Homo sapiens: one gene and its partners. Changing the gene in region 1 together with any one later gene gives a genetic interaction. Each region holds a gene or a part of one and is shown in the gene's direction. Other genes may lie near its edges.

The links. Genes that interact genetically often act in the same process or in processes that back each other up.
Region 2: changes in ABCB7 (region 1) and LONP1 together harm fitness more than expected from each alone (negative genetic interaction), as found in Homo sapiens cells (one large-scale study listed by BioGRID).
Region 3: changes in ABCB7 (region 1) and MBTPS2 together harm fitness less than expected from each alone (positive genetic interaction), as found in Homo sapiens cells (one large-scale study listed by BioGRID).
Region 4: changes in ABCB7 (region 1) and NUBP1 together harm fitness more than expected from each alone (negative genetic interaction), as found in Homo sapiens cells (one large-scale study listed by BioGRID).

The regions. Positions count from the first base shown.
Region 1 is NC_000023.11:75,149,784-75,153,283, reverse strand, and holds part of ABCB7 (iron-sulfur clusters transporter ABCB7, mitochondrial), read left to right. Parts: intron 1-3,500. UniProt on the Homo sapiens protein: Exports glutathione-coordinated iron-sulfur clusters such as [2Fe-2S]-(GS)4 cluster from the mitochondria to the cytosol in an ATP-dependent manner allowing the assembly of the cytosolic iron-sulfur (Fe/S) cluster-containing proteins and participates in iron homeostasis.
Region 2 is NC_000019.10:5,710,147-5,713,646, reverse strand, and holds part of LONP1 (lon protease homolog, mitochondrial isoform 1 precursor), read left to right. Parts: intron 1-393; coding exon 394-513; intron 514-1,644; coding exon 1,645-1,876; intron 1,877-3,500. UniProt on the Homo sapiens protein: ATP-dependent serine protease that mediates the selective degradation of misfolded, unassembled or oxidatively damaged polypeptides as well as certain short-lived regulatory proteins in the mitochondrial matrix.
Region 3 is NC_000023.11:21,877,617-21,881,116, forward strand, and holds part of MBTPS2 (membrane-bound transcription factor site-2 protease), read left to right. Parts: intron 1-425; coding exon 426-520; intron 521-880; coding exon 881-1,076; intron 1,077-3,280; coding exon 3,281-3,356; intron 3,357-3,500. UniProt on the Homo sapiens protein: Zinc metalloprotease that mediates intramembrane proteolysis of proteins such as ATF6, ATF6B, SREBF1/SREBP1 and SREBF2/SREBP2.
Region 4 is NC_000016.10:10,742,490-10,746,641, forward strand, and holds the start of NUBP1 (cytosolic Fe-S cluster assembly factor NUBP1), read left to right. Parts: upstream 1-1,352; 5' UTR 1,353-1,374; coding exon 1,375-1,393; intron 1,394-1,471; coding exon 1,472-1,576; intron 1,577-4,152. UniProt on the Homo sapiens protein: Component of the cytosolic iron-sulfur (Fe/S) protein assembly (CIA) machinery. Required for maturation of extramitochondrial Fe-S proteins.

The DNA.
Region 1 (3,500 bases):
CATGGTGAAACCTCGTCTGTACTAAAAATACAAAAAAAATTAGCCGGGCATGGTGGCGGGCTCCTGTAGTCCCAGCTATTCGGGAGGCTGAGGCAGGAGAATGGCGTGAACCCGGGAGGCGGAGCTTGCAGTGAGCTAAGATCGCGCCAGTGCACTCCAGCCTGGGCGACAGAGCAAGACTCCGTCTCAAAAACAAGCAAACAAACAAACAACAACAACAAAAACAGAACTTACAAGAGAAATAAGGGTGTCTTTAAGTGGATTATAGATCATGGAACTGAAAAGGGTGAGAGGTGATTCAGTGACATTTAAAGTACCTGAAGCGGCCTGGCCCAGTGGCTCATGCCTGTAATCCTAACACTTTAGGAGGCCAAGGCAGGTGGATCACCTGAGGTCAAGAGCTCGAGACCAGCCTGACCAATATGGTGAAACCCCGTCCATACTAAAAATACAAAAAGCAGCTGGGCATGGTCACGTGCACCTGTGACTACAGCTACTCAGGAGACTGAGACAGGAGAATTGCTTGAACCCTGGAGGCGGAGGTTGCAGTGAGCCGAGATCGCGCCACTGTACTCCAGCCTGGGCGACAGAGCGAGACTTCCTCTCAAAAAAAAGAAAAAAAAAAAAGGACCTGAAGGGGTTATTTGTAGTTCAGTGATGCCTAAACTTAACTGGAACATTAGGTTATGATACAAAGATGTGGACTTCATTTGCAGGAAGAGGGATTTAATGTGCATATGAGAAATAATTTCTTAGACTAATAGTCTATCTTAGTCTGTTTGGGCTGGTATAACAAAATACCATAAACTACATGACTTATAAGCAAGAGCAATTTATTTCTCACAGTTCAAGGTGCTGACAGATTTAGTGTCTGGTGAGGTCTTGAGGTTCATAGGCGGTGCCTTTTAGCTGTGTCCTCATGTGGTAGAAGAGACAAGGCAGCTCTTTGGCCCCTCTTATAAGGGAACTAATCCTGTTTATGAGAGCTCTACTCTCCAAGTCCTAATCACCTCCCAATGACTCCACCTTTTAATACCATCACATTGGTGATTAAGTTTCAATATAGGAATTTTAGGGGGACACAAATGTTAAAAGCATAGTCCTTTTATTAGGAGACCAATAAAGACTTTTAAAATTATTAAACAATAATTTGCTGTCATTAGAAAAATACGAGCTGTTAGGAAGCAGCCAGCTTGGTTTTGAAAAGAGCAAGACATACCAAACCAATTATTCATATGAGTGAGTGACAGTCTATCTTGATTTCAACACGGCTTTTAATTGTCCCCTACATTGTTCTCACACAGTAAGCTTGGAAGGAATGATATTGAATACTATTAAGAGGTCTTGAGGTAGGAGTAAGCCTTACTGTAAAGAAAATACAGATGACTTAAAAGATTTTTATTTCTAAATGTTAAAAATAATGAAATAACTGGTGTGCAAAGGGCATAACTTGGTATTGTGGGATGAACACTGGACCAGGACACTTGACCGCCTGAGCTCTATTTGTACTGTTAATTATCTTGGACACATAACTTGTTCTTTTGGACATCAGATCCTGTAAACTAGTAATATTTGACTACCAGATCTCTAAGGTTTCTTGCAACTCTCTTGTTTCTTTACTGTAATCCTTTAGGACCAGCCCTTTTTATATAGTACCTCTACTTTGTGATCCTAGTTTACTACTGGTGTAGTATTCAGGAGCAACATAGGGTAAGTTTATGTTCACATGAATTTTTAATGGGACAAATTTGTATTGTTCTTGTCATATTTGTATATCTAAGAGTAGGAATAGAAAAATGTAATTTAATTATGAGCTTAGTATTTGGTAGTGTTGGGAGGATGGAAGTAGTGTGGAGGAAAAAGTAAGCTAGGTTCCGAAATCATCTGGGATGGTAGAAATAGATTCTAAGGGGTGGTGAAGAATAACAGTAATGCTATAAAAGTTGTAAATAAAGATATACCTTACATGGGCTGTATATGGTAAGGAATGGAAAGTGGCACTGGGACTTGAGAAGAGGAATTCAGGGGATTCTTTTTTCAGATATAGTTGAATAAATAACATTCTCTAAGTCATTGACACATTGGTTTTAACTAGTTATTAAGATTATTAGGAAGAGGAAGAAAATTTCATGTTTCTAAACTTTCTTTTAGAACACGAGGCCCTTTGAGAATCTGATCAAAGCCATAGACCTTCTCCCTAGAAAAATATACATACGTATGTGCTTCATTTTGCATGCAATTTCAGGGGAATCAGAAACCTATCCCCTCTTCCAGTCAGTAATCCCTGATTAATACAATATTGCTGGCTGGTGGGTTTCTAATGGTGTTCCTGAGTAGCCAGTGGCAAGATAAAGAGCACTTGTCACTGGGCAGCGGGGTAGAAATAGAGTGGAAACTTACATCAAAATTTTGATTAAATGATAAATGCATAATTGATCATTTAATTATTGTTATACAATTGTTATAAAATTAATATCATTTATTGCTGTATTGTTGTCAGTGTTATCTTAAAGATTTTGCTTTTTCAAAGAAAAGTATGTTCTTTCCCATATTGTAAAATAAGGTATATAATAAGAGATAAAATTGCCCATTCTGTATACGATTCTTATGCTTTACATTGTCCCCATTTTAATTATACAAAACCACATCTAATAAAAACGTCAAGACAGATATCTACAATCCCACATGTTAAATAATTTTTCCTTTTTCCTTTGAATCTCTGTTCTTTCATGTACATAATTTTTACATTATTGGGATAATTTTAAATTCTGTTTTTACTTGTGAGCATTTTTTTTCTTGGTGCTCAGTCTTGACCAAAATTAGGTCTTTTAATTACTTAAGATTTTAGTAATGTTAATAGGTATATATAGTTACCTGCAAAATGTGATATTTTTGTTGTTTTGATTTTCTCCTTCCTTTCCTGAAATCCATCTCCCTGAAGTCCTCATCTGTGCTCTCTTGACTCCCTTGTAGGATTTGCCACTAGTGAGTAAAGATACTTTTCAAGTCTTTATTTAATGTCATTTGGTCTTCACAGTAATCCGGTTAGGTAGATGAACATTTCTTTGTAGTAGCAATGGCCTCTTCTGTCCTTTTCAGTCCCTTAACTTCTGCCCTAGTTTTAGACCCTTATTACTTTATGCATGGGTTTTGTCCCTGCTTTCAGGGACTTGCCCTTTCAATCCATCCTATACAGCACATCTAGATTATTCTTCCTAAGGCATGACTTTTATCCCATCACTTCCCTGCATAAACTTCAGTGGGCTTTATATCTTAGCCTTAAAAATTTCCACCTAACTAGATTGCTAGCCATATTGTAAACTGTTTCTCTACAAATACCCTGTCCCTCCAGTCACCCTATATTGTTCCCTGTTCCTTGGACCATGTGCTTTTTTGTGTCTGTTCTTTTTTTTATGCCACACCCTATGTCTGAAATGCCCTCTCTCTAACTGGTGCCTATTTTTCAAATGTTAGTTCAAAGGTCAGTCCGTTCCCTGAAA
Region 2 (3,500 bases), on another chromosome or scaffold:
GAGGTTGCAGTGAGCTGAGATTACACCATTGCTCTCCAGCCTGGGCAACAAGAGCGAAACTCCATCTCAAGAAAAAAAGAGTTCCATGCATGCATTCGAAGCAGGCTCTGTGATAGCATAGAAGAGACTCATCAAAGTCCCACCTGGACCATGTCTTTGTGGCTGACTTAGCGAGGAGCCACCCACCCGGTCCTGTGACCACTGGGGCAGCCCTGGCCTGGCAGAAGCTCCCCTAGGCTCTGGAGCTCCTGCGGGAGCCAAGGAGGCCGCTCTTGGTTTTCAGTAGCATTTGGTAGGGGCGTTTCTTTTCTCTCCCTCCTCCATCTCAGCCAGAGACATCCTGCCTAGCATGAAAGCCATGTTCCAACATTCCTCTGTGCTCTTCTCCCACAGCAATGAGTCGGATGTGGTCGAGAGCCTGGATGAAATCTACCACACGGGGACGTTTGCCCAGATCCATGAGATGCAGGACCTTGGGGACAAGCTGCGCATGATCGTCATGGGACACAGAAGGTGGGTGGCTGGCGGGGGACAGTGGGAGGTGGGGGCAGAGTACCACGCGGGAGACCAGCCAGGATGCCTTATGCCCCAGCATCAGCCTCTGCCCTGTCCGTCAGCCCAGCGGCTTTCTCACTAGCACTGAGGCCAGAGCTGGGGGTGAGAGTGAGACATGTCACCTCTGGACCCCTCCTGTCTCAGAAAGGGGTGAGCTGCAGGGCCAGGCATGGTGACTCCTGCCTGGAATTCCAGCACTTTGGGATGTCAAGGCAATTGGATCGCTTGAGCCCGGAGTTTGAGTCCAGCCTGGGCAACGTAGCGAGATCCCATCTCTGCAAAAAATGTAGAAAAATTAGCTGGATGTGGTGGCTCATGCCTGTGGTCACAGCTACGCAAGAGGCTGAGGTGGGAGGATCGCTTAAGCCCAGGAGTTTGAGACCAGCCTGGGCAACACAGCAAGACCCTGTTTCTATAAAAAATAATAAAAAGTTAGATGTGACGGCGTGTTCCTGTAGTCCCAGCTACTTGGGAGGCTGAGGCAGGAGGATTGCTTGAGCCCAGGAGGTAAAGGCTGCAGTGAGCTATGATCACACCACTGCACTCCAGCCTGGGCAACAGAGCGAGACCCTGAGTTCAGGTGGTGCCAGGTGCTCTGAGGGGAGACGCAGACAGCGTGAGAGGTGGAGGTGGGTAGCTTTTGTGAAGTGCTTGGGGACAGTCTTTGCGATGGTGTCCTTGAAATCGAGACCTGAACAACAGGAAGGAGCTGCTATGAGCTGAGTCCAGGGCACAGAGTCTTGGAGACCAGCCTGTGCCCGGCCAGGCTGACACCGTTTTCGACAGGAGGCCCTGGGGCTTGTCACTGCAGCTTATCCACGATACTTAGGATGGGGACAGTGATGCATTGGCGTGGGATGCAGGGAATGCCTGAATCTGGCTGGAGTCTAAGGGGTGGAGGGGACACTGGTTGGGAGGCCCCGAGAAAGCGGCTCACGTCTCCAGCTTGAGGACCCTGTAGCCACCCTGTGGCTCCAGAGGTCTGGGCTCAGCGGGACCCTTGGACCACCTGTGCCACCAGGGAGGCCTCAGCCGGGTCCAGCTCCCAGCCTCAGCGGCTGATTCACACCTGCCTTGCTCCCGTGTCAGAGTCCATATCAGCAGACAGCTGGAGGTGGAGCCCGAGGAGCCGGAGGCGGAGAACAAGCACAAGCCCCGCAGGAAGTCAAAGCGGGGCAAGAAGGAGGCGGAGGACGAGCTGAGCGCCAGGCACCCGGCGGAGCTGGCGATGGAGCCCACCCCTGAGCTCCCGGCTGAGGTGCTCATGGTGGAGGTAGAGAACGTTGTCCACGAGGACTTCCAGGTCACGGAGGAGGTGAAAGTGAGTCCGTGCGTCACGCAGGGCGGCCACAGCTGCCTCCCCCACGGGCTCCCTTGAGCCGTTCCTGCGGCCTCTCCGAAGAGTCATCTCCCACCCTGAGCCCCTTAGGAAGGGTCTGGCCTGTCTGGAACTCAATTCTAATGGAACATAGAGGGTGCTTTTCCTCCCAGAGGTCTTCGGAAGACTCTGGGATGGGAGAGGCACAGGAAATTCGCTGGAGCCTGTAGCTGCTCAGGAAGGAGACAGGGTTGGAACCCAGGTCCAGCCCCAGCCCGTGTCCCCTGTGCCAAAGCCTCCAGCGGTTACCAAGACACCTTCCAGCCCTGGCTTCTTCCCACCAAGCCTGGGAGGTTGGTACCAGTGGTTGCAGGACAGGAAACAGCCTGTTGGCCACCCTGATCCCCCAACCTAGGCCGTCCTGCCTGCCTGGTGGCACAAGGAGTCAGCTTCCGAGGTGGGCAGGCTCTTGGCGGTGCCACCTGCCCTCCCGCTGTAGGGACAGTCAGCGAAGCTAACCAAAGGCCTGAAGCGTGTCAGCTCCTTACCTGTGTGCCTGGTGTCATCAGCCTCTTCCCCAGGCTGCTGCAGGGCCTAGGGGGAAGTGCTGTGAGCAACTGGTGATGTCTGCTGTGGGCGCTGGCAGGGGTGGAAAGTCCTGTCCACAGGCCCACCTGGGTTCTTGAGGTCAGCACTTCTATCCTGCCCCACTACCCCTGCGAGGTTTTTTTTTTTCTTTCTTTTTTTGAGACAGAGTCTGGCTCTGTCAACCCAGGCTGGAGTGCAATGGAACGATCTCAGCTCACTGCAATTTCCACCTCCCAGGTTCAAGTGATTCTCATGCCTCAGCCTCCCAAGTAACTGGGATTGCAGGCACGTGCCACCACACACGGCTAATTTTTGTATTTTTAGTAGAGACGAGGTTTTACCATGTTGGCCGGGCTAGTCTCAAACTCCTGACCTCGGGTGATCCGCCCACCTCAGCCTCCCAAAATGCTGGGATTATAGTCGTGAGCCACTGTGCCCGGCCACCTGTGAGTATTGAGCACTTGAAGTAGAGCTGCTGTGGCCAAGGAACAGAATGGAACATTTTATTGGCTGGGTACAGTGTCTCATGCCTGTCATCCCAACACTTTTGGAGGCCAAGGAAGGAGGATCACTTGAGCCCTGGAGTTCAAAACCAGCCTGGGCAATATTGAGACCCCTGTCTCCACAAAAAAAATAAAATCCCTGGGCATGGTCGCACACACCAGTGGTCTAACCTGTGGGAGGATCGCTTGAGCCCAGGAGATTGAGGCTGCAGTGAGCTGTGATCGCATCACTGCACTCCAGCCTGGGCAACAGAGTGAGACCCTGTATCTAAAAATTAAAATAAAAAAATTCAGGCCGGGCACGGTGGGCTCACGCCTGTAATCCCAGCACTTTGGGAGGCCGAGGTGGGCGGATCACCTGAGGTCAGGAGTTTGAGACCAGCCTGACCAACATGGAGAAACCCCGTGTCTACTAAAAATACAAAAAAAAATTAGCCAGGTGTGGTGGCTTATGCCTGTAATCCCAGCTACTCGGGATTACTGAGGCGGGAGAATTGCTTGAACCTGGGAGGCAGAGGTTGCGGTGAGCCGAGATT
Region 3 (3,500 bases), about 53 Mb from region 1:
GGATGTCTTAGGCAACCTCTGGCCCCCTCTGTTTACCAGCACCACAGTGCAGGGGTTCAGCAGTAATGTTGGATCATTGGCATTCAGGCACATAATAGTAGTTCATTAAATGTTTGTGCTTGACCAGCCAGACTTATTATTGTGAAACCTACTGAGACACTGCAACTCCGGCTTTATGGGTAGCTCAGTTTATATGAGGACAACTAACCTAGGGTAACTGCTGCTTCATGATTTAAAATTGAATGGATCTCTTTTGGTAATGTAAAATCAAACTGCAGCAAGTAGCCCTCAAGCTGAACTCTGAATTATACAGTTGCTTCTAAATTCATATGCCATTTTACTTATTCTTTTTGTCTTAAAGGCATTTTTTGTTACAAATGTATTTTTATATAAGAGACTCTAATAAACAGTGTATTTCTCTTTAGCATACAAACGACTAGATGGTTCAACTGAATGCTGTAACAATCACAGCCTCACAGATGTGTGCTTTTCCTACAGAAATAATTTTAATAAGCGTTTGGTAAGTTGTCCCTGAAGCAGTCTTGCTTGTCTGATATAATTACTAAAAAATAAGCATATAGAGCTAAAATGGAATCTATGGAAACTTCTCTCTTTTGCTCTATTTGTATCATTTTATTAAAATCTCTACATTTCACATGTCACATTTCATCTGAAAATCTTTAAAAATTTATAGTGATAATATCTTATTTGACCCAAATGGGGTACTTGAATCTATTTTATAGTAGATGCACATAAATGGCATTTCTTTTATATGAACCTCATTCCTGATATGCTAGGTGACATGAAAAATATTGAAGGAATGTAACTTAGGTTTTTCTTAATCATTTTTAATATTGACTGATTAATATTTTATTTATAGCATACATGTCTTCCTGCCCGGAAAGCAGTTGAAGCAACTCAAGTTTGCAGAACCAATAAAGACTGTAAAAAAAGCTCAAGTTCAAGTTTCTGTATAATACCTTCTTTGGAAACTCACACTCGCTTAATAAAAGTAAAACACCCACCTCAGATTGATATGTTATACGTAGGACATCCTCTGCATCTTCACTACACAGGTGAGTATTTTTGTGGTAGACCCTTAGAAAATCATTAAGATCACATATAGTCTCAGTGGTAGAGACTCACTACAAATCCTTGAATTAATACATTTATTATAAATTTGATCATTTATCAAAGTCTTGTTAACTTGTTCTTAAGCATTAAGTGAAAATTATGCAGTAGGAAAATAATCTGAATTTATAAAGTAAGGTGGAGCTGAATCCATGCCTGCCTATGGAGAGTGACACATTTTTCCTTCCCTACCATTTATGCCCAGGTCAAATAGGTGATCTCTCAGATGTCCTCTGAGAGTTTATTAAATTTATACAAGCTCCCCAAAACAGGCAAGAGCAACATACCCTAGAGAATGCCAGGATGCATGGGGATGTAACTGTAATTTATGTGTGACACATGACTTTCATATGAATATACTTTCAAAACTGGGCCAGCATAATCATTTTAGCAGTGGCAGCATCATTGGACTAAGTTCTTTATGGCTAAAGATCATGTAGTCTAACTCATTTTGTTGTACAAGATTTTTAAAATAGTTTACCATGCGATTTACCCATTAAAGTTTACAGTTCAGTGGGGTTTTGTTTGTTTGTTTGTTTTTGTTTTGTTTTGAGACAGATTCTCACTCTGTCGCCCAGACTGGAATGCAGTGGCTCAATCTTGGCTCACTGCAACCTCCACACCTCGGGCTCAAGTGATCCTCCCACCTCAGCCTCCCAAGTAGCTGGGACTACAGACGTGTTCCACTGTGCTGGGCTAATTTTTTGGGTTTTGTAGAGACGGAGTCTCACTTTGTTACCCAGGCTGATCTCAAACTCCTGAGCTCAAGCAATTCTCCCTCCTCAGCCTCCAAAAGTGCTGGGATTACAGGCAAGAGGCACTGTGCCCGGCCCAGTGATTTTTAATATATTGAGTTGTGCAACCATTACCACAAGCTAGCTGCAGAATATTTTCATCACCCCAAAAAGAAACTCCATAACCATTAAGTAGTCACTCCCTGTATCTCCCCAACACCCCCAGCCCTTGGCAATCTCCAATCTACTTTCTGTTTCTATAAATTTGCCTGTTCTTGTCATTTCATATAAATGGAATATTTTATGACTAGCTTCTTTGATGTAGCTTAATGTTTTCAAGGTTTATCTGTGTTGTGGCATGAATTAGTACTTCATTCTTTTTAAGGCCAAATGATATTCCTTTGTATGGATAGACCACATTTTCTTTATTCATTCATAGTTAATGGATATGTGGGTTTTATGTTATTCTTTTTTTTTTTTTTTTTTTTTGAGACGGAGTTTCGCTCTTGTTGCCCAGCCTGGAGTGCAATGGCGCAATCTCGGCTCACTGCAGCCTCTGCCTCCCGGGTTCAAGCAATTCTCCTGCCTCAGCCTCCAGAGTAGCTGGGATTACAGGTGCCCACCACCACGCCCAGCTAATGTTTGGTATTTTTGGTAGAGACAGGGTTTCACCATATTGGTCAGGCTGGTCTCAAACTCCTGACTTCAGGTGATCTGCCCGCCTTGGTCTCCCAAAGTGCTGGGATTACAGCGTGAGGCACCGCACCCAGCCTATGTCACTCTTTAAAAGACTCTCTCATTGCTCCATAGTCATATCCTGAGATACAACCGAGGTCATTTTTCTTATCTATTAGTTTGACACTAAATTACTGTAGACTGTAACTATGAAATAAAACCTCAACAAATGAATAAATGTCCCTAGTGGGGGTAATTCAGGAATGTGTACTGTGAGTTCTGACTAATTACAGGATAGTTTTAAAATGTTTTGAACAAAAACAGGATTATGGAATCCACAGAGTAGATGAGACTTTAAATCCCCTCATCTTAATCCTTGGTTTAGCCATGAAGAAAAAAAAAAGACCTGAAAGAGGTTAAGTAGTATAATAGTAGGAGTAAATGTAATTTTAAGGTTATACCTCTTTGAAAGGGTAAGGACTCTTAATGTAAATTTCTTACTCTCGCCTCAAAATGTAAGTACACACTGGGACGTATTTTTTCATTCTGCTGTTTTTATTAGATGTTCTAGAAGTATTGATTGCTTTTATATATGAGGTATATGGCCTGCATATGTTTAGGAAGGGCTTTCTCAATCAGTTTAATCTGCTAGCCCAATTTTTAACCATATGGTAGAATTCATAATGCTGTTGATTCTCTGGTATGAATAATATTTATTATTCCTTATTTTTCTTTTTCAGTGAGCATCACCAGTTTTATCCCACGTTTTAACTTTCTAAGCATAGATCTGCCAGTGGTTGTGGAGACATTTGTCAAGTATCCTTTCTGGTGTGAAACATGTTTTAAAAGTGTGTTACTTGGATCTTGATCAATTTTACCTTGAATACAGCATTACAAATATAGACCTCACAAGTATCACTTAATTGCTAACAACTAAAAAAGAGTCTTGAAAGATGAAAA
Region 4 (4,152 bases), on another chromosome or scaffold:
CAAAAAATTAGCCGGGCGTGGTGGCCTGTAGTCTCAGCTACTCGGGTGGCTGAGGCAGGAGAATGACGTGAACCCAGAAGGCGGAGCTTGCAGTGAGCCGAGATCCCACCACTGCACTCCAGCCTGGGTGACAGAGCGAGAATCCGCCTCAAAAATAAATAAATAAATAAACGTTTCCATATTCTTAGTGTCTGGGGCTAGGTAAAGTTTGTTCACTCATTAATATTCCAGGTGCCAAACCTGTGAGCAATGACACTCCAGTAGCAATGAGCATTTGTGGCATCCACATCTTGGTTTCTGAACTGTTGTCTGCTAAAAAGTAACCAAGGCTCCCTGAAGAAATGACTGCAGCAGGGAGAAGGGATGACTGAAACATCTTGTATCAGAAAGCAAGAAAATGCTCAAAGAAGCTGGATTAGTGCCCAAAGAACATAAGAACTGTCTTGAAGGGGCTTCACTGGCCACATCTGGGGGAAAAAAAATCGACCAGAAAGAATAATAATTGATTATAAAAGACAATTTTAAAAAATCCAGGAATCCATAGTGAGTCTTCGAAAAAAAAGAAAAAAAGAGAGGGTATAAAACTGATATATATTTATCATATATATAATCTATAGTTTTATATATATATATATAAATGCTGCTAAAATCACTGAGTGAAAGGCTGATAGAGAAGAAGATGGTCCCAGAGAGTACCTGTTAATTACAAATGGAAGAAGGAAACATTAAATGGAGAAATGGGGCAGACACCACCTTTAGCAAGCGATCAAGCTTCACATTACCAAAAACGGGACAAACTGACATTATCCAAGTGTGTTCTGCAGGAAAAAAGAAAAATTAACCTTTATCTAATTACAAGGCAAGAGGGAGGGGAGGATTAGACAAATCAAGAATATGGGATATTCTATTACACAACTGGTCTGGACCCGTCAAAATTATCAAGGTGATGAGACCCCCCCTAAAAAAAGAAGGACTGATCTGAATTAAAGGAGACCGAAGAGAAATAACTCCAGGCAGTGAGTGAATCCAGCAGGGGAGGGGGTCTAACAACTGAAATTGAAATATAAACTGTCTATTGGCTAATACTGCATTGGCTAGTACTGCATCGATATTAAATCTCTTGGGTATGAAAATGGCACTGATGTCATGAAGAATGGCTTTGTTCTTAGGAGATGCACTGCAGAAGTATTTATGATAGGAAATCTCTGAAAAGGAACAGACGTTGAGTCCCAGTCTTTCGGCCCAAGGTTCGCGCGTGCGCACAGCCCCCTTTCCGAGACTTATTTCGCGCGGTCGGAGAATCAGATTGTGCCCACAAGGCGGAAATGTACGACAGCGGGTTCCGGTGACCACGAAGGCGGCAAAGGCGACGGAATGGAGGAGGTGCCTCACGGTAAGCTCGCGGAGGGGGCGTGGGTCGCGGGGCGAAAGTGTCGGGAGCTGCTCTAACTGTGGTCTTGTCTCTGCGCAGACTGTCCAGGGGCCGACAGCGCCCAGGCGGGCAGAGGGGCTTCATGTCAGGGATGCCCCAACCAGCGGCTGTGCGCTTCTGGAGCGGGGGCCACTCCGGACACGGGTGAGAAAAGGGCAAGGCCTCAACAGGAACTTAGAGGCGCAGGCCCGGAAAAGGCGGGGCGTGGGAGGGAGGGGGCGGGATCTGCAGAATGACTGACAGCGGCAGGCTAGAAGGTATTGTATTCGGAGAGGGGTGGGGCCCAGAAGGGGCGGGGCGTGGAAAGTGGGCAGGGTGAGGGCGGAGCTTGGAATGACTGACAGGAACGAGGCCTTTAGAAGGCGAGCGCGAAGGACCTGGCGCGGATGGAGGGTGGAGACTGACCGGCGCGGAGTCGAAAGGGACATTAATTAAGAGGGTCGGGGCCAGAGGTTTGAGTGACAATAACAGACCGCAGAGAAAAACGGGATAAGCTTCGAAGTCGGGGAGTCTTCGGACTTACATCCTGGCTCTGCCAGCTACTTTCTTGACACAATTTTCTTCCTTTTGAGGAGTGATTCTCCCACTCATTCAGCAGAAATGTGTTGATCGCCTCGTAGGTTTGGTGCTGTCCTGGGGACACAGCTGGGGATCAGGCGTGGTCACTGCTCTAGTGGAGTTTAGCTTTACTGGGGAAACAAACACGTGAGCTAGCAACTAAACCACCGCAGCTTTAAGTGCTGTGAAGCACAGATTCCAGGATGAGAGGACCCAGGGAGCCTGCTCAGAAGGACCTTAAAAAGCAGGAGGCAGGAGGACAATATTTTTTTTTCTTTTTTTTCCCCCTTTTTTTTTAGACAGAGTCTTGCTGTGTAGCCCAGACCAGAGTGCAGTGGTGTGATCTCGGCTCACTGCAACTTTCACCTCTCAGGTTCAAGCGATTCTCGTGCCTCAGTCTCCCGAGTACCTGGGACTACAGGCGCCTGCCACCACGGCTGGCTAATTTTTATATTTTTAGTAGAACCAGAGTTTCACCATGTTGACCAGGTTGGTCTCGAACTCCTGACCTCAAGTGATGCATCTGCCTGGGCCTCCCAAAGTGCTGGGATTACAGGCATGAGCCACTGCACCTGGCCAAGGGGGAGAATCTTGAAGGAGTTCAGAGAGAGACTTGGATTTGATTCTTGGATCCATGCGGTGTGACCTTCAGCAATAGTCCTAACCTCTCTGAGCTTCTGGTTCCTCATCAAAAATGGAGACAGGCCGGGTGCAGTGGCTCACGCCTGTAATCCCAGCACTTTGGGAGGCCGAGGCGGGTGGATGGATCACTTGAGGTCAGGAGTTCGAGACCAGCCTGGCCAACATGGTGAAACCTGTCTCTACTAAAAATACAAAAATTAGCCAGCATGGTGGTGCATGCCCGCCCTCGAGGCTGAGGTGGGAGGATCACTTGAACCCGGGAGGTGGAGGTTGCAGTGAGCTGAGATCGTGCCACTGCACTCCAGCCTGGGTGACAGAGTGAGACCCTGTCTCAAAGAAAAAAAAAAATGAAGAGAAAAATAGTTATCTCTGTCAATGCAATGGAGAGACTGAACTGAGCCTCAGTGGAGGTTTATTGGGCCAGAGCTTGAGGGCGTGCCCTGGAAAATACAAGTGACAGAAACATCTGTGGCCTGTGCTCGATGGAGTGGTTCCAGAAGGCTGGTGTTTATATATTTCATTAAAAGGGGAAAAAGCATGCAGGAAAAAGTGCAGTAGGCCTCGTGGCAGGTAGTTACATTCTTGTGAGGTTTTAATTCGTGCCCAGTATATCTACACTATTCAGAAAATAAAGTAAACATTCAAAAGAGGGAATAAAGGAAGAATTAATTAGGCAGACGTCTCAGGGTAGGAGAGGAAGGACTATCTCATCCCATCTTTGTTTGGCATGTGGGAGGATAAGCTTGTAATGGACATGGTCAGTGTGGCGTTTAACAGACATCAGTAATAGGGAAGGAGTTAGACTGAGGTTACAGTCCTAAAGTTACAGTTGGCATGTCCTTGTTTATGGGAGGATACTCATCTTCAAAGATTTAGGGGCCAGCAAAGGAGTTCCTTAGGAGCAACTTGTGAGGGCAGTCATCCCACAATGGATTGCATGGGGCCTTTGGCCTTTTGCAGGTGTCTGGTTAATGTAGAATGCTTTGACACAAGGTTGGGAAGTAACAGCTGTCTGTTGATGGGGAGGAGGACAGCAGTGTTGGGAGGTTTCCAGGCTTAACTTTCACTTGAGTTTGGCCAGTCATGAGACTTTTTAATTTCCTTTATACCTCGTGTATTGTTTTAAGGATTTGAAATAAGATAGTTTCATTGGCAGATACTTAGTATGTGCCTGCTGTCTATCAGAGTTTCTCAACCTCAGCACTGCTGACATTTGGGGCAGGATCACTCTTTGTTGTGGGGGGCTGTCCTGTGCATTGTAGGACATTTAGCACAATCTGGGCTGTACCCATTAAATGCCAGCAGTACCTCTCCTGTGACAATGAAAAGTGTCTCCAGGCTGAGCATGGTGGCTCACACCTGTAATTCCAACACTTTGGGAGGCCAAGGTGGGTGGATCACTTGAGGTTGGAAGTTCGAGACTAGCCTGGCCAACATAGAGAAACACCGTCTCTATTAAAAATACAAAAATTAGCCAGGCATGGTGGCAGGCACCTGTAATCCCAGCTACTTGGGAGGCT